Homo sapiens: one gene and its partners. The protein of the gene in region 2 interacts with the protein of the main gene of each other region in a pairwise test. Each region holds a gene or a part of one and is shown on either strand. Other genes may lie near its edges. The genes, in order: PHF7, MAGEF1 and TRAIP.

Evidence for each region.
Region 1: the proteins of MAGEF1 (region 2) and PHF7 interact in a two-hybrid assay, tested with the Homo sapiens proteins (one study listed by BioGRID).
Region 3: the proteins of MAGEF1 (region 2) and TRAIP interact in a two-hybrid assay, tested with the Homo sapiens proteins (one study listed by BioGRID).

Annotation. Positions count from the first base shown.
Region 1 is NC_000003.12:52,411,393-52,421,033, forward strand, and holds part of PHF7 (E3 ubiquitin-protein ligase PHF7), read left to right. Parts: exon of another isoform or gene 1-431; intron 432-1,418; 5' UTR 1,419-1,487; coding exon 1,488-1,528; intron 1,529-2,603; coding exon 2,604-2,656; intron 2,657-3,103; coding exon 3,104-3,195; intron 3,196-8,440; coding exon 8,441-8,542; intron 8,543-8,918; coding exon 8,919-9,043; intron 9,044-9,510; coding exon 9,511-9,641.
Region 2 is NC_000003.12:184,709,864-184,721,358, reverse strand, and holds MAGEF1 (melanoma-associated antigen F1), read left to right. Parts: upstream 1-9,294; 5' UTR 9,295-9,537; coding exon 9,538-10,461; 3' UTR 10,462-10,995; downstream 10,996-11,495. UniProt on the Homo sapiens protein: Enhances ubiquitin ligase activity of RING-type zinc finger-containing E3 ubiquitin ligases. Proposed to act through recruitment and/or stabilization of the E2 ubiquitin-conjugating enzyme at the E3:substrate complex.
Region 3 is NC_000003.12:49,825,238-49,834,543, reverse strand, and holds the end of TRAIP (E3 ubiquitin-protein ligase TRAIP), read left to right. Parts: intron 1-1,503; exon of another isoform or gene 1,504-1,597; intron 1,598-2,475; coding exon 2,476-2,628; intron 2,629-4,475; coding exon 4,476-4,524; intron 4,525-4,777; coding exon 4,778-4,927; intron 4,928-5,035; coding exon 5,036-5,086; intron 5,087-5,318; coding exon 5,319-5,441; 3' UTR 5,442-5,943; downstream 5,944-9,306. UniProt on the Homo sapiens protein: E3 ubiquitin ligase required to protect genome stability in response to replication stress.

The DNA of each region.
Region 1 (9,641 bases), about 130 Mb from region 2:
GGAAGAAGCCATCAGATGTCATTGCTTCTGCAACTCCTGGGTTAGAGGAGGAGACAGAACAAGCACAAAGAAGGGGAGGGCAGGGTGGCTTTGGTTTCTTGAACAGTAATTTCCTCAGTCGTCCTTATTCATGCAGAATAGTTTAAAGTCCCTGAAGATATTCCCGATCTCCAGCCGTGATCGGAGGCCATGGATACTGGAGTGTCTCTGGAGTGACCTGATTCACCCAGCCCTCCTTCTAAGAAATGCTGTCCTTCTCCTCTCCCCTGACTAGACAGTCCTTGCTTCACAGCGGTGGATTTTCTTTCGTTCCCGTTCACTTTCAGGGATCTCCCCGTTAACCAGTGAAACTGTACATTTGTTTTACAGTTTGTTTACTAATGAAAACAGGTAACAGCCGGAGTTGGCTGACATTGGAAATAGGAGACAAGGTACCTTCTGCACTTTTGGCTATTGTACTCGGCTCAGATGGAGACAAAGGTTGGGTACAGACCATATCTCAGTGGCCACCTGAGCCTAGGTGAAAAGAATTGATAGGAGAGGTCAGGCCTGGTGGCTCACGCCTGTAATCCCAGCACTTTGGGAGGCTGAGGCGGGAGGATCACTGGAGCCCAGGAGTTGAAGACCAGTCTGGGCAACATGGCAAAACCCTGTCTCTACAAAAAATTAGCTGGTGCGGTGGCATGGCACCTGTGGTCCCAGCTACTTGGGAGGCTGAGTCAGGAAGATCATCTGAGCCTAGGAAAGTGGCACTTTCATGCACTCACCCACTGCACTCCAGCCTGGGCAACAATGAGAGACCCTGTCTGAAAAAAAAAAAAAGTGATAGAGCCTAGGGGGTGTTTGTCAGTGTTACCTCTTGTCTCTCACTAGAGGGAGTTCTTGCTTTTAGGCAGCCCAAATCTCACAGGCTCCTTTGCTTAGGAAAAAGCTACCTTATCTAGCTTTCACTGGGTAGAATTAAGGCACCCATACTTAGGTGCAAAAGGAGCCTTTTTTTCCTGAGTGCTACTTCACGTATTTTTTTGTAGGCACAAAGAAACAACCATTTAGCTAGGTCAAGTAATGGTTCTAAGTTCTTTTGCTACTGTGTGATAGCAGTATAACATGAGAGTTAGTGTTGGCCTCTGGAGCCAGGCTACTTGAGTTCAGATCCCATCTATATCACTTACTAACTCTTACCTTGGGCAGGATACTTAAACCTCTCTGTGCCTCAGTCCCCCATCTTGAAAATGGGGATAATAATGGTACCTACTGCATGGCGTGTTTGTGAGTTAACACATGTCAAGTACCTAGAACAGTCCCTTTTATTCCATCACATGGGTTGGGAGGTGAAGTGCACCATTGCCTTGACCCTGGGGAACTTGATAACCAAATACAGAATTAAATTGCTTACCAAACCCCATTTATATTTATAGCTGGAAGAGCCTGTATTGTCCTCACAATAGTATAGAAGAATTCAAGAGAGGAGAGAGAGACAGCACCGAATGAAGACTGTAAAAGAAAAGAAGGAATGCCAGAGATTGAGGTAGAAGTAGTTGACATAGGGAATTTGGGAGAAATTGTCCAATGGCCTGTGGTATAGGCTGCACTTTTTGCCCCCTTTGTCGTAGTCTTGGGGGTTGAGGTTGGACAGTGTGGAAGCACACACGGAGCTGGGAGCTGTCATACCTGTCTTACCAGTGCTGTCCCTAGTAGCAAAGTGCTGACTCTGGAACCTTACTACCCAAATTCATATCCTAGCTCTGCCACTTGCCAATAACTGTGACAGAAGGCACTACATTTCTTTATGCCTCAGTTTCCTCATCTGGAAAATGTACATAATAATGGCATGTACTTTTTAGAGTGTTCTGTAGATTCATTGAGCTACTGTAGATTAATTGAGCCAATACATGTAAAGTGCCAAGAATAGTGCCTCGCAACAGGAAATACTTTTATCAATTTTGGTTCATTTCAGTATGCTTTGTAAAGGTGGTACCACCTGAGATTCAGAGTAGTTGGCAGAAGAAGCAGTAAAAAAGTAAAAGAGGGTTTGCTCTTGCATTCATTCAGTCAACATAGGCAGTACAGGCACTGGGGAGAGAAAGATGCTTACAATCCGGTTCCTGCCCTCAAATAACTCAGTGAGTATGTTTTGCACTTAAAAAAAATATGAAATATGGCCAGGTGCAGTGGCTCATGCCTGTAATGTCAGCACTTTGGGAGGCCGAGGCGGGTGGATCACCTGAGGTCAGGAGTTCAAGACCAGCCTGGCCAACATGGTGAAACCCCGTCTCTACTAAAAATATAGAAATTAGCTGGGCGTGGTGACAGGCGCCTGTAATCCCAGCTCCTCGGGAGGCTGAGGCAGGAGAATTGCTTGAACCCAGGAGGCAGAGGTTGCAGTAAGCTGAGATCGCACCACTGCCCTCCAGCCTGGGCAACAGAGCAAGACTCTGTCTCAAAAACATATATATGTGAAATATGAAAAGAAGCTGATGTCTTAGGCTTTAGATATGTTGGTCCTTCATCAGACCCATGAATGGCATTTTAAGAGAAATGTTAAAAAGGTTATCAACAAGATCCCCAAAGAACACCTTGTGCTTCTTATTTCTCTTGTATAGAAAATCTGCCAAGACTAGGAGGGTAACCCAGAGGAAACCGTCTTCAGGGCCTGGTAAGAAAGACTGGAGCTTGTGTTCGCCCACTGCCTCCAGCCCTCAGCAAAGAAGGCCACCTGTGTGGGGCAGTATACTTGCTTCTTCTCTCTCTCCCAGCCCTACTTCCTTCCTAGATTCTCTAAGATCTTGAGGACTCAGGAACTGCCATTTTAAATTACCATGTCTGAAGTTCAAGAAACAAGTTATTAAAGTCACTTTAGAACAAAACAAAACCAAAAAAAAATGAAGTGAGCAGTTGTGGCCAACTTTTTCATTGTAACCAGAATTATGTGACAGACTAATTGATACCACATAAGACCTCATCCCAACCTTCCTCCTTGCCAAAATGACCCTTTTCCTAGTATTCTACTCCTTCCTGACTTAGAGGAATGGTTACATTCTCACCCTTCTCTTCCATTCTTAATGGTCAATTTGAGCCAAATTCTGGGTGTCCTCTCTTCCAGTTTGCTGGCTATGCCTTCGAGAACCTGGGGATCCCGAAAAATTAGGGGAATTTCTTCAGAAAGACAATATCAGCGTGCATTATTTCTGTCTTGTGAGTATGAGGCCTCCTTTGCTTTGAATATCCTATGGCTTTTGGTGTACTGACTGTTCTCTGTTACATTCATCCTCATATCCACAGCCTTGTTTTTTTATTTTTCTTAATAGCTTTTTTGTTTTAAAATCTATTTTTAGGCTGGGTGCAGTGGCTCACGCCTGTAATCCCAGCACTCTGGGAGGCCGAGGCAGGAGGATCTCTTGAACCCAGGAGTTCAAGACCAGCCTGGGCAACCTTGTCTCTACAAAAAAATTAAAAAAAAAAAAAAAAAAGCTGGGTATAGTGACAAATGCCACTCCGGAGGCTAAGGCAAGAGGATCGCTTGAACCCTGGAGGTGGAGGCTGCAGTGAGCAGTGATCACACCACCACACTCCAGCCTGGGTGACAGAGGAAGACCTTGCCTCAAAAAAAGAAAAATATATGTGTCTGGTATAAAATCTTGACAGTATAAAGTAAGTTCAGTAAAAAAGTCTCTTCCCTAAACAATGTTCCCAATCCTTCTCCCTCTCCCCAGAAACAAATGCTGTCAAAGTTGTAACATCCTTCCAATTGCTTTTTCCCAGTATTTTTTTATTAGGTATAACTTTCATACTGTAAAAATCACCAATTTTTTTCTTTTTTTGAGAACGGAGTCTCACTCTCTTGCCCAGGCTAGAGTGCAGTGGCGTGATCCCGGCTCACTGCAACCTCTGCCTCCCTGGTTCAAGTGATTCTCCTGCCTCAGCCTCCCAAGTAGCTGGGATTACAGACACCTACCACCATGCCTGGCTAATTTTGTATTTTTAGTAGAGACAGGTTTCACCGTGTTAGCCAGGCTGGTCTTGAACAAAATTCACTAATTTTAAGGGTCCAGTTTGATAAGTTTTGATAAATGTATGTCCCCAAATAACCACCACCCCAATCAAAATAGGTAATATTTTCATCACCCCAGAAAGTTCCCTCCTGCCTCCTTTTCCAGTCAATCCCACTAGACGTAATCACTGTTCTGATCTATGGATTATTTTTGGCTATTCTTTTACTTCATATAAGTGAAATCATATAGTTTATAATCTTCTGTATCTGGCTTTTTTCTCCCAACACAGTGTTTTGGAGATTCATCCATGTTGTTGCATGCATTCATAGCTTGTGCCTTTTTATTACTTGGTAGTATTCGGTTGCATGAATAAGTTACTATTTGCTTATCTGTTCACCTGTTGATGAACATCTGAATTGTTTCCATTTGAGGACTATTATGAATAAAGCTACTTTAAGCATTCATGTACAAGTCTCTTTGTGAACATGTGCTTTCACTTCTCTTGTGCAGATGCCTAGAAGTGGAATTACTAGTTGTATGCTAATTAGATATTTAACTTTATGTGAGGTTGCCACATCACTGTCCAAAGCGGTTGTACCAGCTTACACTCCTACCAGCAATTTATAAGAAGTCCAGTTGCACAGTATTCTTGCCGGAACTTTGTTTTGTCAGTGTTCTTAATTTTAGCCATTCTACTGGGTGTGTATTGGTATTTCATTGTCGTTTTAATTTCCATTTTTCTGATGACTAAAGCTTCTTTTCATGTGCATATTGGCCATTCACATATTTTCTTTGGTTTTTTGGTTTTTTTTTTTTTTTGAGATGGAGTCTCGCTCTGTCGCCCAGGCTGGAGTGCAGTGGTATGATCTTGGCTCACTGCAGCCTCCACCTCCCGGGTTGGAGCAATTCTCCTGCATCAGCCTCCCAAGTAGCTGGGACTACAGGTGCCTGTCACCACGCATGGCTAATTTTTATATTTTTAGTAGAGACAGGGTTTCACCGTGTTAGCCAGGATGGTCTCGATCTCTTGACCTCGTGATCTGCCCACCTCGGCCTCCCAAAGTGCTGGGATTACAGGCGTGAGCCACCGCGCCTGGCCCGGCCCACATATTTTCGTTTGTTAAGTATCTGTACAAATATTTTTACCCATTTAAAAACACTGAGTGGTGGTCGGGCACAGTGGCTCACGCCTGTAATCCCAGAACTTTGGGAGGCCGAGGCGAGCAGATCAAGAGGTCAGGAGATGGAGACCATCCTGGCTAACACGGTGAAACCCTGTGTCTACTAAAAATAAAAAAATTAGCCGGGCATGGTGGCAGGCGCCTGTAGTCCCAGCTACTCGGGAGGCTGAGGCAGGAGAATGGCGTGAACCCAGGAAGTGGAGCTTGCAGTGAGCCGAGATCACGCCACTGCACTCCAGCCTGGGCGACAGTGCAAGACTCCGTCTCAAAAAAAAAAAAAAAAAATTGAGTGGTTTTATTATTGAGTTGTAGGAATTGCTTATATATTTCAGATACAAATTCTTTTTCAAATATATGTATTGAGACTATTTTCTTCCTAGTCTTTGGCTTGCCTTTTCATTTTCTTAATGGTGTCTTTCAAAGAACAAGTTTGTAATTGTAATGGAGCCCAGTTTATCCATTTTTTTCTTTTATGGTCAGTGCTTTTTGTGTGTTGCAAGAAATCTTTACCTACCCATAGAATTGCCTTGGTGCCTTTGTCAAAATCAATTGACCATATATCTGTGGATCTGGATAATCTATTTATGTCATTGATCTATGTATCTATTCTTACACAAGTCCCCACTGTCTTGATTATTGTGGCTTTATAGTATATTGAAATTCAGTATTGTTAAGTTCTACAATCTTTTCCAAGATTGTTTTGACTATCAGGTCCTTTCTTTATAAAGTTTATATTAAGCTTGTCAATTTTTCTTTAAAAAAAAAGTCTACTGGGATTGTGATTGGGATTGCATTGAATTTATAGGTCAATTTGGGAAGAATTGACAAAAAATATTGAACCTTCCAATCCATGGACATGGTATATTTTTCCACTTATTTGGGTCTTTTAAAATATATCTCAGCAATGTTTTGTTGTTTTGGTGACAAAGTCTTGTACATCTTTTGTTAAATGTATTCCTAAATATTCTGTGGTTATGCTATTGTAAATAGTATTTTTATTTCATTTTTAAGTTTATTGCTGGTATATAGAAATGCATTTTATTTTTGTATATTGATTTGTATCCTGTAATCTTGTTAAATTGAGTTTGATTAGTTGTTTTTTTATTTTGTTGTAAATGCCTTGTTACAGGATTCCCTATGCACATAACCATGTCATGTGTGAATAAAGACAGTTCTACTTCTTTCTCTCAATCTTTGCCTTTTATTTCTTCTTGCCTTGTTGTATTGGCTAGGACCTTTAACCTAACATTGAATAGAAGTGGTGTGAGTTGTTATCCTTGTCTTGTTCCCAACATCAGGGGACAGCATCTAGTTTTTCACTATTAAAGTATGTTAGCTCTAGGTTTTTTTCATAGATGTTTTTATCAGGTTGAAGATCCCTTTTATTCATATATAGTTTGCCCAGAGTATCATGAATGGGTGTTGAATTTTCTCACTTTTCCTGTATTTATTGAGATTATCTTGATTTTTCTCTTTAATTTTGTTAATGTAGTTTGTTACATCAACTAAATGCTCTAATGTTAAACTAGTCTTGCATTCTTGGTATAAACTCTACTTGGTCATGATGTATTGTCCTTTTTATATGGTGCTGGATTCAGTTTGCATCTGTTTTGATTTTTATATCTGTGCTCATGAGAAAGATTGGTCTGTGATTTTCCTTTCTTGTAAGTCCTATCAGGTGTCAGGGCTTAGTTATAATTTTGATGTATTTACAAGCATATACATTTTTTACATAAAAATTAAACATTATACAGAGTGCTTTGTATCTTGGCTTTTTTCCATCATATATATTTTGGAAATCTTTCTGTATAGAACATATAGATATAGTTTTTTCTTTTTAGTAGCTAATTTATTAAATCAATACATGCTTATTGCAGAAAACATGAATGATACTTAAAAATATGAAGAAAACAAATCACTCATCCCAAAGCCCTGAGATAATTAGTTTTAAAATATGTGTTTCAAAAGTTCAATTCCTTCCCCCATAATACAGAACAACAACAATCAAGAGATATTAAAACCCTGTTTTTCTTCCTGTATTACTCTGAGAAGAGTATTTTCTCTGTACTAAGAGGTGATGCAGCAGGAAGGGTAAGAATGGGGATTCCATGGGCCTGGGTGTGAATAGCCAGCTCTGCTCCTCCTTGTCCTATAACCCTGGGAGGCAGTGTCACTTGCCACACTGCACCTCAGCGGCCTCCTCTGTAAGATGAGCATCATAATAGCATCTGCCATTACAGGAATTTTTTTTTTTTTTTTTGAGACGGAGTCTTGCTCTGTCGCCCAGGCTAGAGTGCAGTGGCCTGATCTTGGCTCACTTCAACCTCCGCCTCCCGGGTTCAAGCGATTCTCCTGCCTCAGCCTCCCGAGTAGCTGGGATTACAGGCGCGCACCACCATGCCCTAGTTTTTGTATTTTTAGTAGAGACAGGGTTTCACCATGTTGGCCAGGCTGGTCTCGAACTCCTGACCTCAGATGGTCAGCCCTCCTCGGCTTCCCAAAGTGCTAGGATTACAGGTGTGAGCCACCGTGCCTGGCCAAGGATTGTAAGCATAAAATGAGTAAATACAAAGGAAATGTTTCCCCCAAAGTCCCAGCACACAATAGCAGCCCTCAGTAAGTGAGAGGCAGCCTAGAGCAAAAGTAAGAGTCCAGGTTCCAGAGTTCTGTGGCCTTGAGCAGGTCGCATCATCTCTCCTATAAAATGAGGACAATAATAGTACCTACCTCCTAGGGCTGTTGGGAGGACTCAATGAGTTAATATTTGAAACCACTTAGAGTATTCAACACATGGTTGGTGCCATGTAAGCCTTCATTAAATAAATTACCCTGTCAATGCATATATATTCCACCAAGCTCTGTTCTTTTTTTTTTTCTTTTTTGAGACAGAGTCTTGTTCTGTGGCCCAGGCTGGAGTGCAGTGGCACGATCTCGGCTCACTGCAAGCTCCACCCTCTCGGGTTCACGCCATTCTCCTGCCTCAGCCTCCTGAGTAGCTGGGACTACAGGTGCGTGCCACCACACCCGGCTAATTTTTTTGTATTTTTAGTAGAGATGGGGTTTCACCGTGTTAGCCAGGATGGTCTCCATCTCCTGACCTCGTGATCCGCCCGCCTCGGCCTCCCAAAGTGCCGGGATTACAGGCATGAGCCACCACACCCGGCCCAAGCTCTATTCTTTAGCTCTCTTACCCTGTCCTTCTCCTCACCTCACTGCACTGTTTCACTGATCATCATTGTTAACAGCCTGGTTCTACTGCCCCCGCAGATCTTATCTAGTAAGCTGCCTCAGAGGGGCCAGTCCAACAGAGGCTTCCATGGATTTCTGCCTGAAGACATCAAAAAGGAGGCAGCCCGGGCTTCTAGGAAGGTTAGAATCTCTTGAAATGAGGACCTTGGGGTAGGCCTCTTTTCATACCTCACCCATCATTCCTGTTTCTGTTCTCTTCCCTACTTCCTAGTTTAGATGTCAAAGGACTCTTGGATTTTCCAACTAGTCCTTAAGTCCCATATTCCTCTGGGGTATGGGTGTCCTAAGTGAGAAGAGGGAGAAACATCTTGAGAAAATAGGAAAGAACTCAGTGCTGCTTGAAGCTCAGCTTCCGGGTGCCCCAGAGCATTCAGGACCACTGAAGATAGGGAATGGCTATTATTTCACAAAACTTCCATTTAATAGAAAGATGTGCTACACTGTGTGTGTTTGCATTTCTTGGGGTCCTGAGCACTGTCTGGGAACTCATTTGCAGATCTGCTTTGTGTGCAAGAAAAAGGGAGCTGCTATCAACTGCCAGAAGGATCAGTGCCTCAGAAACTTCCATCTGCCTTGTGGCCAAGAAAGGGGTTGCCTTTCACAATTTTTTGGAGAGTACAAGTGAGTGAGGGAAGGGAAAAGTCTGGCTTCCTTTTTGCAACTTATTATTCAGCCACTAATGAAATCAGAGTCCAGTTCTCACAAGCAGGCCTGTTTTGATTCACCAGTGAATCTGTCCCTCCATTCAGTAATAAGAAACAGTGTCTTGACTTGGAGATTTCACAGGGGGTTCTTCTTGCTTCCTGACCCCTCCTTAAATTACAAACAGCTGGGGTTCTTAGACAGCTGCTCAGCACTAAGTGGGGCTTTCAGGAACGAGAGGCTATGGAGACAGTCCTGGGAACTTTGCTCAGTAGGTGAGCAGCCGTGAGAAGGCATGTGGCAGTTCTTCACTCTGCCTCTCCTCTTCCCCATGTGTGGAGGTTCACTGGGCACCAGCCTGGGTGGCTGGCTGCCCCTCCTAGAGCGGGCCATTGGGAAACTACATCAATGACAAACCAGAAACCAAGTCTGTTTACCTGCCACAGATCATTTTGTGACAAACATCGCCCAACACAGAACATCCAACATGGGCATGTGGGGGAGGAAAGCTGCATCTTATGTTGTGAAGACTTATCCCAACAGAGTGTTGAGAACATCCAGAGCCCGTGTTGTAGTC
Region 2 (11,495 bases):
AGAATAATCCCAATTTTAAAAAATATATCATACTTATATGGTCCTACTCATCTATATTGGGAAATAGGAAAGACTAGAAAGATACAGTCTAAAATATTAGTAGTGGTTATCTTTAGTTGGTGGGATTTAGGGTTATTTCATTTTAATTATTTTTCCTTTTATCTGTATTTTCTAATGTTAATACAAATTATGTTTTATTTTTATAATTATGAAAATAAAGAGGAAAAAACTTATCTCAAACAAGTCCCAAGGAAAAATGAATAATCCAGGAAAGATATTTGCAACATGACAAAAAATTTCATATCTTTACTATTTAAAGAACTCCTGCAAAAAATAAGAAAAAGAAGAACGGTCCAGGAAAAACTCAAATAAACAACAGGATGAGTGTTAGACACTTATACAATGTATTATTAGAAAGCAGTAAAATGATAATATTGAACACTATTTAATGACAAGGATGGTCATTATCTATTAAGAAAAAGCAGGCTAGAAAATAGTATTGTTTTAATAAAAATATATTTATACCAGACTTACAGACTTTATTCAATGTATCTATTTATGTATAGATATAAACACATGCACACAATTAAATCTGTGAGGGTAGGCACTGAAAGGTATATAGCTATGATTTCTGAATGGTAACATTTCAGGTGTTTAATTTTTTTCTTGCCTTAACTTACATTTTTCAGCAATAAAATGATTACTTGTATAAGAGAAAATATTTATAATATTGCTGTGTGAAAAATTTTGCCACAAATAAGTTCCTCACATTGTATTTAAGAATGAAAAACTGAAAACAAACTAAATCTATAACAATAGGCATTAAAGGTGACATGGCATCCATGGGCAACTTCAGTCACAAATAATTACCTTATAGGAAAATATTAATTAGAGTGAAAGTTTCAAGGTATGTGAAGAAATATATGTTATTCATATACAAAGCCACAGTATACATGCAGTGTACACAAAATGACTCCATTAAAAAATAAAATTGTATGTGCTTAGAAAAATTGGAGGAGGACACCCACCAATGTATTTGTTTACTGTAGTTACCCCTGCATGGTGGAATTATAGGTGTTTTTCTGTTTTTGTTTTTTTCTTTTTGATGGTCAAGATTTTCTCAGTTTTCTACAATAAATAGTATCTTCTAAAAATTAGGAAAAAAAAGCACTAAGTTATTTCGTAATGCTTTAAAAGCAAAGATGATTCAAGAAACAAATTACGAACTACATAAGAACTGGCTCCTCCAGAAAGACCCATATGAGTTAGGGATTTTGACTAATTGAGGTGGGCTATCTCCATCTACTGATGACAAGCAGAAGTCAAGCACGACCTTGGTCCTCAGCTGGGATGCTTATCCCCCCTTCCTCCTTCCCTTGAGTCTCTCTTGACCATAAGGTGTTGGCCACCACACTAGGTAAAACAAAACTGCCCACCAGTGTGTGAAGGCTGGATGCAGCAACAAGGCAGTGGTCCTCAAGAATCGCTGGTCCAGCCACTCACCTTCCAGCAGGTAAGTTAACAGACCTGTTGGGCCAGAAGGTGGTTGGAGGGCAGCATCGTTGATGAAGAGGCCAGGGCACGAAGGTTATCTGCAAAACTTGTTCCTGGCCCAGAACCTCCTTTCACTGCTTCTGCTACAACCTCCTTGGCCATCTTAGTGTTACTGCCGAGTTTGTTAAAAGAAAGGAGCTGCCGGGCTTGGTGGCTCATGCTTCTAATCCCAGCACTTTGGGAGGCTGAGATAGGCAGATCACCTGAGGTCACGAGTTTAAGACCAGCCTGACCAATATGGCGAAACCTCGTCTCTACTAAAAATACAAAAATTAGTTGGGCATGGTGGCACACGCCTGTAGTCCCAGCTACTTGGGAGGCTGAGGCAGGAGAATCACTTGAACCCAGGAGGTGGAGGTTGCAGTGAGCTGAGATGGTGCCATTGCACTCCAGTCTGGGCGACAAGAGTGAAACTCCATCTCCAAACATAATAAAATAAAATAAAGGAGCAGCTACAAGGTGGGTGTCTCTCAGGCAGCCCCCTCCAAAAGTGCCAGGGCAAAGAGGTGAGCTCTGAGACCCAGGCAGCCCCCAGGCCCTTTATGTCTCTGGAGAGTTTATTGCAACAGCCTCCTAACTGGCCTCTTGCCCTCAATCCCCGCCCTGCCCAAACTATCTTCCAGGCCCCTGCCTCCCATCTTGAAATACAGCTATCGATTTTATTCCTGGGATCAAAACAGTTTGTGTAAAATCAGCGCTTCTCAATCTTTACCACTGAAGCGCACCAACAGTAGACAAAAGAAATGCCTTATGCTCCCCCAGGGTGCTGCAGAGCCTGAAGCTCCTGCCAGCACACCCAAACTCTCTTTGAAGTCTCCTGTTTTCTCTTAAAAATTCATGAGAATTTTGCATTCTACTCCATGATATATCTGAATTTCTTTTAATATGAAGATGTTTAAAATTATTCACCTCAAGGAAAACTGATGTTCCCGAAAGAAATACTGTATTTATCTGGAGGCTTCAAGTATCCTCCTTGGAGAATTATCTACAGGATAAAGTCCAAACTCCTGACAAGCAAGGCTCTTTAAAATTTGGCCTTCACAAACCTTTCTGCTTTTCTCCTCCTCCACCTCTGCACACACTCCAGTGTCTGGGCCACCTGGACTCTTGTCATTTCCTGATATGCCAGCTTCTTCCCAGTCCCTGTGTGTGTTTTTGCTTCCTTTGGGACCACACTCCCTGCCTGTTGACAACCCACTATTCCTAAAGGCCTCAAGGGGGATCAAACACCACCTCTCACAGGAAACCTCTGATCGCCCAAGACAGATACGATGTGAGAGATGCCGTGAAAATAGCCTGTGTTTTGGAATCAGAAGGCTGGTGTTCATCCTGTCTCCAACTATTGACAGTGGAAACATTACCTAACTTCTCTCAGATTTCATTTGTAAAATGGGGAATAGTTATGCTTCCCTCAAAGGGCTGTTCTAGGGATTAAATAAGGTTCAAGCAATTTTGCAGTGCCCAGCGTATACTCCCTTCCACCCCTCCAAATTCCCACAACACTTTATTGATACCACTGATGTCAAGAGCAGACATTTACGTAGTCGTTCTTTTTACAACAGCTTATTTCCCCTAACTAGATCAGTGGTTCCCAATGTCCCAAAAAGCTTCTTGTATTACCCCCATGGTCCCACAGCTTGAAAGATTTTGGTTATTAAATCAAACACATTTATGAAATAATAGCCTGCTTTTCTCAGTTCTTGATCCTAGTAAGCTTTCTGAACATTGAGAGCGCTGCCAGCCTTTCCTCTCATACCTAACTCTAGGGACTTGGAGTTGGGAGCCACCCACCAAGATCATAAACGCCTTGAATCTGCAGCCCTGTCTCCACACTTCCCATAGCACCTTACTCAGCGCCTTGTGCTTAAAACACACCTAGTAACTGCTTGTGGCATAAACAAGAAGTTTCACACACATGACAGAGGGAGAAGCCCTCTCCAAATGAGCTGGTTGGTGTGCAGAAAGGGGTCATTGTTAAAGGAGGCAGAGCTGGAGGCGAGCCCTTCTCCCTCCATCCACCCGGAGCAGCACCCCCAATTACACCAGCTGGCCTCCAACTTCTGTGTGTGAGCCGATTAAAAAGCACCCTCTCTTCAGTGTCTGGAAACTCCTGCAAGGAAAGTTTGCTGCCCAAAGTTGGCTTTTGACTAGAGTCTTAATAAGAGGCCTCAGCAGGCTGTGGTTAGAGAGACAATGTCACTTAGAGGAGCAGCTTGAAGCGGCAGTTAGGAGAAGAATTATTTTAATGAATACATTTCCTTTCAATTGTATGGGAATATCAAGATCCCATTAGAATGGGGAAGCAATTAGAACTAATAAAGATGAATGCACAGTGCTCTGTGCGTGCGGAATAACAAGCAGCCCACAAAGGGGCTCCAGAGAGGCCGCTGTAATCCAAGCAAACTGGCGGCCAGCAGAGGGGAAACGGCTCTGTTCAGCCGCTCAAAGCCCCTGCGTCCTGCACATTCTGATCACGGCCTGCGAATGGCGTGAGGTGGGCCTTCGAGGTGGGGGTTGGGCCCCCCGCCCTTGCCCAGCCTCTTGGGGATTGAGATGGGCTGTTGGCAGCCCCTTGGCAACAGCCATTCAGACCAGGGCCCTGGCTCCTGGCCAGGCTCTCGCCCGCCCCTTGCACTGGGCCTCATTGTGTCCAGGTGGCAAATGCCTTCTCGCCAACTCTCCTTCGAGGTTTAGAGAGGGGGTGGGACAGTGGAAGAGGGAGAAGGGGATGAATGAGTAGGGGGCCCTCTGCCCCCTGCCATTCCCCCTCCCCCGCTGGCCAGGGTCTGCTCCTCCTCTGGGTTTGGTGTTATATTACAGACACTGGTGAGTCACTGGCAGCCAAACACAGAAGTACTGTTGCTTACACAATTACTCTTCAAAAAGTAACAAACAATTTTCATTACCCAAGTCAGATCGAATCATTCGCCTGGCCATCCTGCCTCAATCCCAGCCCCATAGACGGGACCCAAAGCCTCACACTCTGCCCATTCTGCTCTGACAAAACCAGCTTCAATTTGTCCCGGCCTAGGGATAGGGACAGAGCTCTTCCTCTGATCCCTGTTTGGAGCCAGATCAGCTGCACGGCTGTCAAGACTGTCAGGAGAAATAGGGAAGACACAAGCACCCACGCAGCCTGGAGACCATCAGATCTGGGGTGACATGTTACTGAGCACCTGTGTGAAGAAGGCATTCAAGAGTTTGGAGGACTCTATTGCCAAGTTTAGAAGGAATCCAACAAGATAACCCTGGCTCTGCACCAAAGTATTCACTGGCCTCAAATGGAGTGTCAGTACTTGACATTTCTTTATTTAATCTTTTTTGGCCAGACAGTTTTTTCAATGAGGAATGTGTAAGCTATTCCGAAATGTCTGTCTAAGAGGCCAGTCACCCTCATTACTGGGATTTTTCCACCATATCTCTTTTAGAAAAGGGTCTGTAACATTTTATATTTATTTCTTAATGGTGGAGCACTTTAAACGCATATTTACATGTATAATCTTGATTGAACTTCAAAATAACTCTGTAAGGATGGGCAAAGCAAGGGTTGTTGGGGCCTAAAGATGAGGAAAAGGTGGCTCAGAGAGGTTCAGCACCCTGTGCAAGGTCACAGAATGGGCGAGTACTGACCTGGTTCAGCACTTTGTCCCAGGAAACCTCCTCCGCGTCTCCACAGAGTGCTGGGCATTTCAGGACAGCTCAGCTGCAATTCTGCTTTTCCAGTGGAACATCCTTCTCTCTTCCACGTATGAAACTTTACGAAGCACTGTGGGCTTTTGAAGACTCTAGTCTAGGCTAAGAAGGATCCTCTCTCAAGAAGATTCCAACCCAATAGTCATTAAAGCATATGTTTCGTCATCTCCCAAACCAAAGGCATATATCTTTTGTCCCTTTTAAAAGTTTAGGTAAGGAATGTGTTAAAAGTCTGCCTGTTGCCGGAAATGGTGGCTCATGCCGGTAATCCCAGCACTTTGGGAGGCCGAGGCAGGCGGATCACGAGGTCAGGAGATCGTGACCATCCTGGCTAACACGGTGAAACCCCATCTCTACTAAAAAAAAAAATACAAAAAATTAGCTGCATGGTGGCAGACGCCTGTAGTCCCAGCTACTCGGGAGGCTGAGGCAGGAGAATGGCGTGAACGTGGGAGACGGAGCTTGCAGTGAGCCGAGATGCGCCACTGCACTCCAGCCTGGGCGACAGAGTGAGACTTCGTCTCAAAAAAAAAAAAAAAAAAAAAAAAAAATTCTGTGTGTCCGGTTACATGGTGGACATAACAAAAAAAAAAATGGGAAAAATTATTGTTTGCATTCCTTCCACTGTAACATGGTAACATCTAGCGATCGGCAAGTGGTAATGCAGAGTCCATTCACCTTTCTTACTCCTCGCCTCCTCCCATACCTAAAGGGCTGTTCATTTTTTAAAATCCTTTTTTATTTTTATAAATTTTGAGGTATGATTCATACACTATGAAATGCATACCTGGCTGGGCATGGTGGCTTACACCTGTAATCCCAGCATTTTGGGAGGCTGAGGCAGGCAGATCACTTGAGGTCAGGAGTTTGAGACCAGCTTGGCCAACATGGTGAAACCCCGTCTCTGTTAAAAATACAAAAATCAGCCAGGTGTGGTGGCAGGTGCCTGTAATCCCAGCTACTTGGAAGGCTGAGGCAAGAGAAGCACTTGAACCTGGAGGCAAGGGTTGCAGTGGCAGGGGTTGCAGTGAGCTGAGATTGTGCCATTGCACCACTCCAGCCTGGGTAACAGAGTGAGACCCTGTCGCAAAGAAAAGAAAAGAAAAGAAAAGAAATGCATAGCTATTAAGCGTACAGTTTCACAAGTTTTGACAAATGTATACCTACATCCAAATCAAGACACAGAACGTTGCCATCACCACTGAAAGTTCCTGGATACCCCTTTCCAGTCAACACCACCCCAGGCCTCCACTGTCCTAATTTCTATCACCATAGATTAGCTTATCCTGCCTCGAACATCAGATAAATGGAATCATATTATACGTATAATCTTTTGTATCTTTCATCTGTCACTCAACATATCTGCCAGACTCATTCACATTGTGTCAGTAGTTTGTTCCTTCTTATGAGTAGTATCGTCATTTATTCAGTTCTTAAAATCCAGCCCTATTACCACAGATTTGTCCCTCAAAATTCTTTTCATTTAATATATCTTCTGCATGCTCCTTTCCGTGCATGTATCTCCTGCATATCTCCCTGGCAATCCTTGTAGTGAGGAAAATATGTAAGTGGACTATTTTATCTCTAGCACTGTCCTTTTAGGTATGGGTGGCTCTCTCTACCTTCAGGAAAAACAGATAACCAGGCAGTCTTGCTTCAGAGTTTACAGATCTGGGTTTTCATTTCTTGTCTAGCACTTAACAGATGGGTGGTTCAGGGCAGGTGATTTAACCTCTCTGTGACTGTTTTCCCATTTGTAAATGTGGATAATAATACCTTCTTAATAGGGATTTGTGAGGACAAAATTATATTGTACATAGAATGTTTGGCACAATGAAAACTAATAATAGCCTCAAGCTAGGCTATAATAAACATCCTCTCCTGCTTCATTCACATACTTCCAGGTTTGTAAGTCATATGATACAAGTGGGTATAAATTTTCAAAAGTTTTTAAAAGGAAGATTTCATATTTAGATTTAGAAAAGTCTATCAGATATTTACTTAAAATAAGTAACTGTTATTTCCTAGGGAAAAAAGTAAAGCCTTCTGTCATTTATTCATTGGCAATTATATATCGAGTATTGACTAAGAGAAGCTCTTCAAAAGAGTTAAAAACATAGCCCTAGCTTTTAGGATGTTTGGTTTGGGGAGGGTAATAAGATAAGCACAACAAATTATAATACAAAATATAGTAAATGATAATAATAATAATTAACATCTATGAATGTAGTGGTTAAGAGCACAGTCTCTGGAGTCATACTATATGGGTTCACATCCCAGCTGTGTGATGTTGGGCAAGTTACTTAACCTCCTTGTGTGTAACCTCACCTGGAAAATGGGGCTAATACCACTTACCTAGCAGGGCTACAGTATCAGAAAAAAGTGGCCCAGGGTGTTTGAGCATCCTGTACAAGGTCACAGAATGGGTGAGTACTGACCCGGTTCAGTGCTATGTCCCAGGACACCTCCTCCGCATCTCCACAGAGTGCTAGGCATTCCAGGACAGTTCATCTTGCAATTCTAATATTGTATATTGCATATAAAAATATGCATTAATTAACAGCTAACATGTATTGAATATCAATATGTGCCAAGCACTGTGTTAAATGCTTATGTGCATTACTTCACATAATCTCCACAATGCTGTTACTACTATTATACTCATTTTACTGATAAGGTAACAGAAGGGCAGAAGTTTAGGTAACTTGCCCAAGATTACATAGCTAGTAAGTAGCAAACTGTGTCACAGAAAAGATACAATCATCTATAAAATGGGGATGATGGTATTAGTACCTACATTAGTGAGAATCTGATGAATTAATATTTGAAAAGTGATTAGAACGGAGCCTGGCACCTAATAAAGCCTATATATGTGGATGTTAACAATTGCTAAGGTGATTCAGAGATGACAGTAAATAACTTCTATGCGTGGTGACTAAGGAAGGCTTGGGAAGGTGATGTTTAAACTGGGCCCTGAATAGTGGACAGGATTTGGAGAAATGGAGGTGATAGAGAGGGCATTTCTGACAGGGAAGGAAGGGAGGGAGGGAGGGAAGAAGGAAGGAAGGAAGGAAGGAAAGAAGGAAGGAAGGAAGGAAGGAAAGAAGGAAGGAAGGAAGGCAGGAAGGGAAGGAGGGAAGGGAGGGAGGAAGGAAGGAAGGAGGGAAGGAAAGAAGGAAGGAAGGAGCAAGAAGCAGAAGAAAGCTCAGAGTGTGTAAAAAGAGAAAAAGAAAAGAAATACATGGGAGTAGTCAAATTTGACTTGCGCAAAAAAAAAAAAAAAAAAGAACAAACTTCCCCTTTCTTCCAACCAGTCCCTATTCCTGCTGTACTTCTCAGTATTTTCCTCTTATCCCCATGGAATCTGCTGTCCTTACTCCCTCATCATAATGATCCATTGAATATTTATTGAGTTCCTCTCCGTGTCAGGCACTGCTCTAGGCACCGAGGATACAACCCAGTAAATAGGCCGGGTCCCAGTTCCTAGTTTGCACTATAATAATCCTCCAAACTGGATTCTAGCTTTTAGCCGGCCGAACTCCAATCTATCTTCCACAATACCGCCAGAACCGAAGACACAGATCTGGTCTGGACACTCACTTGCTTAAATCCCGCTGCAGTATTTTCTCTTTACGTCCAGAATAAATTTCAGTCTCCCTAGCATCCTTTACTAATTGGTTCGCACAGTCTTACCTCGCAGCCTTCACCGTGCACTCTGCACAAGAGCCCCGGTAAAGCACTGAAAATCCCAGATACACACACTCACAAATAGGCACTTGCAGAAAGAACGTGGGGGGCACTCCATCCCTATTTCATCTCTTGTACACCGAAACATTCCCCAGTCTGCATGCCTTGGATGGGAGAGTCCTGGTTACATTCCCCCGCCCCCGACTTTTCAAGCCTAAAATCCGTCACAGGGCGCACCCCCGTCCCCACCCTCCAGGGCATTTCCACTTATAGCAGCCTGGGCACACCCCCAACCCAGAAGGGACCGGAAAAGGAGGGGCTGCGCGCGGCACTAGGGTCGCCGTCCTGGCTGAGGTGGCCGGAAGTGGCCCCTCGCGCGGGCGCGGACTGAGGCTGCGCGCCGCAGGTTCCGGCTGCTGGCGGCGTTGCGGCCGCAGGTTTGACTCCCGTGCGGTGCGGCCCAGCAGCCACAAAGCTCCCGCTGCCATTGCTCCTTGTACTCCCGCCGTCACTGCCGCTGTCCAACCCCTCCCCCGGGGCTTGCGCGGCGGCTCCCACACCCCTCGGCCCGTGTACGCGCTCTGCACCTGCCTGCCCGAAAACATGTTGCAGACACCAGAGAGCAGGGGGCTCCCGGTCCCGCAGGCCGAGGGGGAGAAGGATGGCGGCCATGATGGTGAGACCCGGGCCCCGACCGCCTCGCAGGAGCGCCCCAAGGAGGAGCTTGGCGCCGGGAGGGAGGAGGGGGCTGCGGAGCCCGCCCTCACCCGGAAAGGCGCGAGGGCCTTGGCGGCCAAAGCCTTGGCAAGGCGCAGGGCCTACCGCCGGCTGAATCGGACGGTGGCGGAGTTGGTGCAGTTCCTCCTGGTGAAAGACAAGAAGAAGAGTCCCATCACACGCTCGGAGATGGTGAAATACGTTATTGGAGACTTGAAGATTCTGTTCCCGGACATCATCGCAAGGGCCGCAGAGCATCTGCGGTATGTCTTTGGTTTTGAGCTGAAACAGTTTGACCGCAAGCACCACACTTACATCCTGATCAACAAACTAAAACCTCTGGAGGAGGAGGAGGAGGAGGATCTGGGAGGAGATGGCCCCAGATTGGGTCTGTTAATGATGATCCTGGGCCTTATCTATATGAGAGGTAATAGCGCCAGGGAGGCCCAGGTCTGGGAGATGCTGCGTCGGTTGGGGGTGCAACCCTCAAAGTATCATTTCCTCTTTGGGTATCCGAAGAGGCTTATTATGGAAGATTTTGTGCAGCAGCGATATCTCAGTTACAGGCGGGTGCCTCACACCAATCCACCAGAATATGAATTCTCTTGGGGTCCCCGAAGCAACCTGGAAATCAGCAAGATGGAAGTCCTGGGGTTCGTGGCCAAACTGCATAAGAAGGAACCGCAGCACTGGCCAGTGCAGTACCGTGAGGCCCTAGCAGACGAGGCCGACAGGGCCAGAGCCAAGGCCAGAGCTGAAGCCAGTATGAGGGCCAGGGCCAGTGCTAGGGCCGGCATCCACCTCTGGTGAGGGTTGGTGAAAAGTTGGCCAGTGGGTCCCCGTGAGGACGAACTACTGTCCTGAGTCATAAGTAATATGGGTGGGGCGAGGGTCTTATTTCTGTAGAAATCGTGTGACTTTAAGGATTTAGATTTTGTATCTTATGTTTTGTAACATTTAATAATTACTGTTAAAATGCTGTTTGTAAATGAGATTGGTCTACTTTTTCCTGTAGGATTTTATTGTAGAGTTTTGCTGGTTTTGTAAAATGGATGGAAGAACTTTGTATTTATACTGTGATTTTGAACAGATTATGCAACATTGGAAGGAAGGCTGTACTTTGATGGTTTGAAGGAACTCAGCAGTATGATGATCTGGTTCCAGGGGAAAAAAATAGCTGGTTGGTGTCTAGCCCCCCAACACTTTTGTCTGTTGTGTATAAAAGAAGAAAGACTGGCATGTACCTTCATTTGCTTAGCTATTTGAGTATCTAGAGAAAAATTAAAATGCAATGAGTTAGCAGTATACCCTGGCACACTTAATAAATTAAACATTTGTGGAGCATCTTGTTTTCTGTGATGCACTGTGTGGGCACTTGGGGATAGAATACTAAACAAGATAAAGGTCCTACTTTTTTTCAGAATTGAAGAGTAAGTAAATAAACAAGAAATTAGCAGTGCAATGAGTTGAAGTCTACAAAGGGATACTTAACCCAGCTGGGATGATTGAGTGAGGTTTGCTGTAATCCCAGCACTTTGGGAGGCCGAGGCGGACTGATCACCGGAGTCAGGAGTTCAAGACCAGCCTGGCCAACATGGTGAAACCCTGTTTCTACTAAAATTACAAAAATTAACCAGGCGTGGTGGCACACACCTGTAATCCCAGCTACTTGGGAGGCCAAGGCACAAGAATCTCTTGAATCTAGGAGACGGAGGTTGCAGTGAGCCGAGATCATACCACTGCACTCCAGCTTGGGAGACAGAGCAAGACCCCGTCTCAGAAAAAAATAAGAAATAAAAATAATGATTTCAGATCACAGCTACTCCTCAGTAATGTGAGCAGAC
Region 3 (9,306 bases), about 130 Mb from region 2:
GCCTAGTGTTCTACCAATGCAGATTAGGATGGGGTGGAGCCAAGCTCACAATTTCATCAGTGTTCCAGTTTTCAGGCCTGTTTAATGCTTTTGCAAGGCCCTCCCTTTCCTTCATGGACCCCCTCCTTGTGGGTTCTGGCTGCTGTGTCAGTCTCTTGTCCCCTGGCCATGCTTTGTCTCCCAGAATTTTTTGGAAATCTCTGGGGGCTGATGGTGGTTGCCCCTTCTACTTGTTGCAGTAGGATTACCCTTCATACCTGTCATTTTAGGGAGGCATCAGCATGTAGCCACCACCCCCAACTACAGAGTCAATGTTAGGAAGATCTCTCTCATGGGCCCCAAGGGCCCCTGAACTCCAGGCTAGAGACAGCCAGGGAGACCTTTCCTTAGGGTAGGGTAAGGCCGCCAGGAGCCATGAGTTCATGGAGGAGATGTTGACTAATCCCATGCCACGCAGGCAATGGGCTGCTCAAGGCCTTAGCTCTGTTCTGGAAAGGGGAGCTTTGAGTGTCTTGCCTGGCTCCCTGAGGCCTCTGGCATGAAGCCCTGTAACTTGACCATGGGTGGGTGTCCCAAGGGTGATAGTGTCACTCAGGAGGGCCTCAAGCCAGCCTCAACCAGTGAGGGAAGGACTACTAAGCCCTAGGTTCTTTCTCCTTGTAGGACAAACAGAAAGTGGGAAGGAAAGAAAGTGGACCCCTGGCAGAAAGGGAAATAGGCTTCAAGCTCATGAAGGAAGAAGAATATAGAAACAGTCTAAGACAAGGCCGGGCGCGGTGGCTCATGCCTGTAATACCAGCACTTTGGGAGGCCGAGGTGGGCAGATCACGAGGTCAGGAGAGCGAGACCATCCTGGCTAACACGGTGTAACCCCATCTCTACTAAAAATACAAAAAATTAGCTGGGCGTGGTGGCGGGCGCCTGTAGCCCCAGCTACTCAGGAGGCTGAGGCAGGAGAATGGCTTGAACCCGGAAGGCGGAGCTTGCAGTGAGCCGAGATCGCACCACTGCACTCCAGCCTGGGTGACAGAGCAAGATTCCGTCTCAAAAAAAAAAAAAAGAAACAGTCTAAGAGAGGAAGAAATGTGTCCATATGATCCAGATGTGGATATGGGGAGTGAGGGAGGCACCGTGAGAACCTCCTGAGTCTTGAGTTTAGTGTTGTGGATGACCAGGAGGTGCAAGTGAATAAGCCTGGCTTGCCTTGAGCTTGGGCACCACTAGGCAACGCCTTAGGGGATGGCTGGGAGTAGAAAGTCCTGCCTTGAGCCACCTGGAGGGTAAAATTTACAGGACCCAGCGAGATCCTGCCTTCCTCTTGAGTTTACCTTTCCTAACCTGAGCCTCAACTTGCTGGGGTTGGTAAATGGTGGCAGAATATGGATACTGCAAAAAAGTTGGCATGAGTGGTCCTGGCTGCTGTGGTTCCCAGAGGAGGAAGCAAAGCAGCCAGCCTAGAGTTGGTTTGAGGTGGGTTTGTGCAGTCTTCATTTTAACTTGCAGGCGGGGACAGAGGTAGAGCTTCTAGGGTCCTGGACAGGGAAAGGAAGAAATAGTCCAGGCTGCCTGGATTGCTTAGCCACCCAAATCAATGCAGGTAGGCTTCCTCCCTCTGATGTGTACACCCCAGTGGAAGTGGGATTGTGGTGCAGCTCTGAAAAGTTCCTGAGGAAGGAAAGAGAGAAGGCATCTTTGGAGCTACCCTTGCCATTCCCCAGGGTTCTCCTTGTATGACAGGAGGTGGGGAGCCCTGCCAGGTCTGGGTGGGCTGGAAGAATCCTGTCGGCTGTAGTTTTAATAGAATAAAACTTCACTCCCCACCCCCCACCCCCCCCCCCCCCCCGTGTTATAAAAGTAAAAACACACTCATTGAGAATTTGGAAAATAGGGAGTTATCATAGAGGTACTTATGGTTGACATGTGGAATATTTCCTTCTCCTTTTTCTGCATGTGGGAGTGGTGGGGGGGTGCCAAATCATGTAATTGCACTATACATGGAGTTTTGTGTGCTTTTTAAATTAAATTAAATTTAAACTTTTTTTTTTTTTTTTCCTGAGACGGAGTCTTGCTCTGTCGCCCAGGCTGGAGTGCAGTGGCGCGATCTCGGCTCACCGCAAGCTCTGCCTCCCGAGTTCAAGCAATTCTCCTGCCTCAGCCTCCCGAGTAGCTGGGACTACAGACACAAGCCACCACACCCAGCTAATTTTTGTATTTTTAGTAGGATGGGGTTTCACCATGTTAGCCCGGGTGGTCTTGATCTCTTGACCGCTTGATCCACCCGCCTTGGCCTCCCAAAGTGCTGGGATTACAGGCGTGAGCCACTGTGCCTGGCCGAGAGTAGGGCTCTCTTGAGGGGTGGCCTTGAGTCAGGAGTGGGCTCCAGGTCCCTGGAGCTGAGTTATCTCTGATGCTTCAGGAGCTGTTGTCCTGGGTTACCACTGTGGCCCCAAGTAACCAGGTCATCTCTGCCTTCAGCCCAGCCCCTGTGGAGGTGAATCTGAAGCTCCGCCGGCCATCCTTCCGTGATGATATTGATCTCAATGCTACCTTTGATGTGGATACTCCCCCAGCCCGGCCCTCCAGCTCCCAGCATGGTTACTACGAAAAACTTTGCCTAGAGAAGTCACAGTGAGTGATAGTCGCTGGCACTGTCCATGGGCTGGTAGGGGGATAGCTAAGACAGCTCTGCAGGCCCTGTGCTGTTAGCTCTGAGTGGCTGATGGGGCAGTGAGGGTTGCCTAGGCTTGGCCATGGCTTTGGTTCCAGCTACCTCTTGTTCCCTCACCTGAGCACTCAATCTGTGCAAACCCCTTCTCTTTTCTCATTATTCCTCACCATCACCTTTCAAGGCAAACGTATTGGAATGCAAGTTAGAGAGAATGCAGTGATGCCAGAAGGGGTGGGTCTGGGCTGGAGAGGGTGCTCCCAATACCTTGAAGGCCTGCCCACCAGAGTCCTGAGCGAGGGACTCTGAACTTCCTCTTCTATGTTTGCCTCTGAGGCTCATGCCTGAGGGAGGATCATCTCAAACCACAGAGCCCAAGGCCTTACCACCCAAGGGGGTGACCCACAGGGGCAAGCATGAGAAGCTGTCTGGAATTCCAGTGGGGCAGGTGGAACCTGCTCTGGGGTACGGTGGGACCAGAAAAAGGGAGGCTGTCTCCTTGGCCAGCTTTGCCAAGTGTAATTCACTGTGGAGACAAGGACTATACTCATTCATACAGGTACTGTTCAGGTGAGGCTGGTCAAGGGCTGGGCAGGTTTCCTCTTTTTCAAAGACTTTGTACAGAGAGAAAGAAGAGAAAGAGAAAGAAACTGAGATGCTAGACAGTGGAGGTGGAAGGGAGCAAGAGGGCAAGCCAGCTGGGCTGTCCTACCTCCCAAACCTCAGGGGGCATGGGCACCCCTGTTGTAGAGGGCGAGGCCTGGTAGCAATGAGAAACAAACCTAGGACCCGTGGGCTGTAGTCCTCAGGGATCCTGTCAGTGTCTGCTGTGTACTCTGGCTTCCTCCCATTGCCCTTCTTCCGCTGTAAAGGTTGAAGGTGGACACCTGGGGTCTTCAGGCTGCCAGGCCTTTCAGAGACATTTCCACCACCTTCATGGCCTGTGGAGGTAGTGAAGGAGGTAGTGAAGTTCTGAGTCCCTAACTCAGCTCGTCCTTCCTGGAGCCTTGGTTGTCATGTAGCCTTACCACAGGCCGTTAGGGCAGGAGCAGAGGAGTCAGTCATCAGGCCCTGATCCCACTCTTGTCCTTATGGCTTGAGAAGCCACAGGGCCAGCCTTAGATCACCATCTTCTCACCCACCAGGGAAAATGCCAGGAGAGGGTATCCAGCTGCTGGGTTCCCCAGGAATTGGATGGAAATACAGTTTCTGGCTCTGGGGCTGGGATTGGGAGACCAGGGCCTGGGGCCATGCGCTATTCTGCCCCAGGCCCTTCTTAGACACACTCTCTAGGGAGATGGCTTGGCCCTGTGTTCTGAGAGGATTTTGTGGGCTACTTTACTGAAAGGCTAACTTACTGAGGCTCTCGTGGAGGTAGTGTCCCCTCTCTGGGAAGACAGGACTAGGCCTGAGCTCATTAAATTTCTTTTGCTCGTATCAGGGCATGACTGGCTTTCCTCCCGTGGGTGGTGAGTTGATTGGGCTCTTCAGCCCCATATAGAGCCTGGGACATGGTGAGGTGCCCGAGGACTTGAGGAGCGTTGGAATTTGGCCTTGAGTGGAAGCCACAGGATTGGGACATGGTCCAGTCATCCCCAGTCATCCCTGTCTCTGCCACCCTACTGGCTGTGGCTGTCCAGCTGTTAACAGACCTGCACTTGGGGTGGGATCACTGAGGTGCCTTGCCCAGAATGCAGGCATGGCAGCAGCAGTGCCACATGGTAACTCCCCAAGGGGCGTGTGCTGAGCCTGGTTCACCTGCCCCCATGTCTTGCTTACCTACCCCTTGCCTTCTCTCTCATTCTTGTAGCTCCCCAATTCAGGATGTCCCCAAGAAGATATGCAAAGGCCCCAGGAAGGTAAGAGCTTTCTAGAAGAAGCACAGTCTAACCTTTGGCAGGACTGGACTTTTGGGAGGGCACGGTCTTGCCAGAGCCTTGTCACTCCTGGTCCAGGACTGAGGTACTTCGGAGCCACCCTTGGGATTCTACTCATTATCCCTCCTGCCTCCTAGTGAGGCATCAGAGATCCTGATCTTGTTCCACCACCACTACCCTCCCTCCTTTGCTGACATCCAGCTCATCAAGTCTGGCCCTGGGGTCTTCCCTGCAGGAGTCCCAGCTCTCACTGGGTGGCCAGAGCTGTGCAGGAGAGCCAGATGAGGAACTGGTTGGTGCCTTCCCTATTTTTGTCCGGAATGCCATCCTAGGCCAGAAACAGCCCAAGAGGCCCAGGTCAGAGTCCTCTTGCAGCAAAGATGTGGTGAGTGTGGCTTCCCACAGTGGCAGGAGCCAGCCCTCTTGGGTAGAAATGGGTGGCCAGCCCCCCAGCCCATTAGCCTGGCCCACTCATCTCTTCCTTCCACCCTAGGTAAGGACAGGCTTCGATGGGCTCGGTGGCCGGACAAAATTCATCCAGCCTGTATCCTTTTCCTGTGATGTTGAGCTGAGCTGAACTGTGGAGCCCATACTATGCCTCACCTATACCCCCAGCCTGCCAGTGCCAACAGCCTCAGGTGTGCAGTGCTGGGCCTCATTCTGTGTATCAGCGCCGCCCACCCCCGGCTCTGAGCCTTTCTTGCCCTGCATTGCAGTCCTTTCTCGCCCTGCATTGCAGTCCTTTCTCCATGCCTCTTCCTTGACAGCTCCTCCAGACTGACACAGTCATGATCCGCCCATTGCCTGTTAAGCCCAAGACCAAGGTTAAGCAGAGGGTGAGGGTGAAGACAGTGCCTTCTCTCTTCCAGGCCAAGCTGGACACCTTCCTGTGGTCGTGAGAACAGTGAGTCTGACCAATGGCCAGACACATGCCTGCAACTTGTAGGTCAAGGACTGTCCAGGCAGGGGTTTTGTGGACAGAGCCCCACTTTCGGGACCAGCCTGAGGTGTAAGGGCAGACAAACAGGTGAGGGTGAGTGTGGCACCCAGAGACTGCTCTTCCTGCCCTCACCCTGCCCCACTCCTACGACTGGGAGCTGACATGACCAGCCCACTGATCCTGTCAGCAGGTCCTGCTCCTGTTGCCAGGCTCCTGTTTATAGCCATGATCAGATGTGGTCAGACTCTTTCTGGGCCTGGAGACCACGGTCACTTGTTGACTGTCTCTGTGGACCAGAGTGCTTGAGGCATCTCAGGCAGCCTCAGCCCAAGCTTCTACCTGCCTTTGACTTGCTTCTAGGCATAGCCTGGGCCAAGCAGGGTGGGGAATGGAGGATAGCATGGGATGTATGGAGAGGATGGAAGATTTTCATGTAAAATAAAATTAAAAAAAAAAAACAATCTCTTCTTCCTGGTTCTGAGAGTGTAAATTTGCACCAACACTTTAGAAAACTGTTTGGCATGACTTTCTAAAGCAGGAACATCGCCAAGCCTCAGATCCAGCAGTTCCTTCCCTAGGCATATGCCTTCTCATGGGGCACAGGAAGACTCTAGAAAGAATGAGATCACTGCAGCTTTTCTCACAGTCTCTAACCTGGGCACAGCCTAAAGGCCATAAGTAGGAAAGTGAACGAGTAAATGGAAATCTATCTATACAGTGTACTCACAGCAAATAACCAGCGACCACTACCTTCCGTTCCTACCCACGTTTAAACGCTACCAGCCAAATTGCTAGCTTTTGACTTTTGGCTGCAAAGGCACTTTCTTTCTTTTCTTTCTTTTTCTTTCTTTCTTTTTTTTTTTTTTCTTTTTGCAACAGGGTCTCCCTCTGTCTCCCAGGCTGGAGTGCAGTGGCACAATCACAGTTCACTGCAGCCTCAACCTCCCAGGCTCAGGTGATCCTCCCACCTCAGCCTCCTGAGTAGCTGGGACTGCAGGTACATGCCACCACGCCTGGCTAATTTTTTTATTTTTATTTTTTGTAGAGACAAGGTCCTGCTATGTTGCCCAGGCTGGTCTCAAACTCCTGAGCTCAAGCGATCCTCCTGCCTTGGCCTCCCAAAGTGCTGGAATTATAGGTGTGAGCCACCACGCGCAGCCAACGGCACTTTCTTCTAAAGTGCTTCCCTTCTTGACCCCCAGCCTGGGTGAAGTCCCCTAAATTTCCCTCTCCCACTATTAGGTAGGAGTTCACCTGTTTTTCCAGGACCCAGCATGGGCCTGGCACGGGGAGTAAGAGGCACAGGGAGTGAGTGAGTGCTGCAGTGGAGGTTGCCCAGCTGATCTCTAGCATATCTGGAGGAGTATGGGGCTTTGTGGCAAGGAGGTGCCATTCTTGGTTATGAGTTTTGGCCCCTCTGCAGCTGACTTGAGCCAAGGAAGTTTAGTGATGCAAAGCGAAGCATCAGGTTAAGAGTGTAGGGGCTGGCTGCTAGCACCATCCTTACCAGCTGAGTGATCTTAGGTAAATTACCTGGCCTCTCTGTGCTCAGCTTCTTTTTTTTTTTTTTGAGACATAGTCTCAGTCTGTTACCCAGGCTGGAGTGCAGTGGCATGATCTCAGCTCACTGCAACCTCCACTTCCTGGGTTCAAGTGATTCTCCTGCCTCAGTCTCCTGAGTAGCTGGGACTACAGGCACGTGCCACCGTGCCCAGCTAATTTTTGTATTTGTAGTAGAGATGGGGTTTCACCATGTTGGCCAGGCTGATCTCGAACTCCTGACCTCAGGTGATCCACCCACCTTGGCCTCCCAAAGTGGTGGGATTACAGGCATGAGCCACCGTGCCTGGCCCCTGTGCTCAGCTTCTTTATCTGTAAAGTGGGGATCTGGGCCAGGCATGGTGGCTCACACCCATAATCCCAGCACTTTGGGAGGCCAAGGCAGGTAGATTGCTTGAGCCCAGGAGTTCAAGACCAGCCTGGCCAACGTGGTGAAACCCCATCTCTCCAAAAATTCAAAAATTAGCTGGGCATGGTGGTGTGCACCTGTAGTCCCAGCTACTTGGGAGGCTGAGATGGGAAGGTCACATGACCCTAGGAGGCAAAGGTTGCAGTGAGCCGAGATCATTCCACTGCACTCCAGCCTGGGCGACAGAGCAAGACTCCCAAAAATAAAAATAAAGTGGGGATCTGTGTTGCGTATAGGTTAAGAACTTATGGCAGCTAGGTGAAATAAGCCAGACACAAAAAGACAACTATTGTATGATTCCACGTACATGAGGTGTCTAGAACAGGCAAGTTCACAGAGACAGAATAGAAGTTAGCATGGGATAGAGGGAGGGGGCAGGGGAATTATTGCTTGATGGTCACAGAGTTTCTGTCTAGGGTGATGCAAAAGTTTTGGAAATAGATAGGTGTGATGATTACCAAAAAATGAACTTGTGACCTGAATACATGGATATCTTGTGTTCATGGATTGGAAGACTTTAAAGATGGCAATAACCCCCAAAGCATTCTACAATTCAATACAATCCCTATCAAAATTCCAATGGCCTTTTTTTTTTTTTGCAGAAATTTGAAAACTGATTCTCAAATTTATATGGAATTGCAAGAGGCTCTGAATAGCCAAAACATTTTTTAAAATTGTTTTAAAGAAAAGATAAAAGTTGTTCCCAATTTAAAAACTTAACTACAAAGCTATAGTAATCAAAAGAGTGTGGAGCGAAGGCATGCATAATGGTGGAATTGGAAGCTCTAGGGGTTGGTTCCTGAATCAAAGCAACCATTGAGCTGAAAAGAGCAGTGATTGTAATCAACTGTTTCAGAACCCGGAAATTTAACAAGGGGGTTGCTTGATGAAGAGAGTAGTGTGAATCAAGCAGCTACTTCTCCCATTCCTCAGCCCCATCCGGCTGTGGGGATAGCAGCACCAGTTCTGAAAGCAGCTGACTGGTGCCAGAACAGGCACGGGAACCTTGCCCTCCAAAAATGCTGGGGTTGTGCGCTTTGACGGACCTGGAGGTACTCTGAGATGCTTGCCTTGGTTTCATTCAGCCTCTTAGATGCAATTCCTGCATTAATACCCCACCCAACCCCACCTTGGCAACATATCAGAAGATTTAAAGGACTCGTGCCTTTTTTTGTTTGTTTTTTAAGCCAGAAAATCTTTGTCAGCTCACTCACTGGCTGACTACAGAGATAATAGAGGCCCGGCACAGTGGCTCACACTGTGGGAGGCTGAGGCAGGAGGAATACTTGAACCTAGGAGTTTGAGACCAGCTTGAGCAAAATAGTGGGACCCTGGCTCCACAGAAAATTTTAAAAATTAGCCAGGTGTGGTGGTGCATGCCTGCAGACTCCCAGCTACTAGGGAGTCTGAGGTAGGAGAATTGCTTGATTCCAGGAGTTGGAGACTGCAGTAAGCAGTGATTACACCACTGCAGTTCAGCCGGGGCAACAGAGTGAGACCCTGTCTCATAAATAAATAAAAAATTAGGTTGCTGCAAAATAAAATATTAGATTGGTGCAAAAGTAATTGTGGTTTTTACCATTACTTTATAAGAGATAACAAACTTCAGTGACCACACACACACAAGAGACACACACTTTGCATAAATAGTTTGGAAAAAATCACAGATGGCTCCAGCCCTCAACAAGCAAAAATTTAGGTCAGGCACAGTGGCTCACACCTGTAATCTCAGCACTTTGGGAGCCCGAGGCAGGCAGATCACCTGAGGTCAGGAGTTCTAGACCGTCTGAGCCAACATGGTGAAACCCCGTCTCTACCAAAAATACAAAAAATTAGCCGGGCGTGGTGGCACATG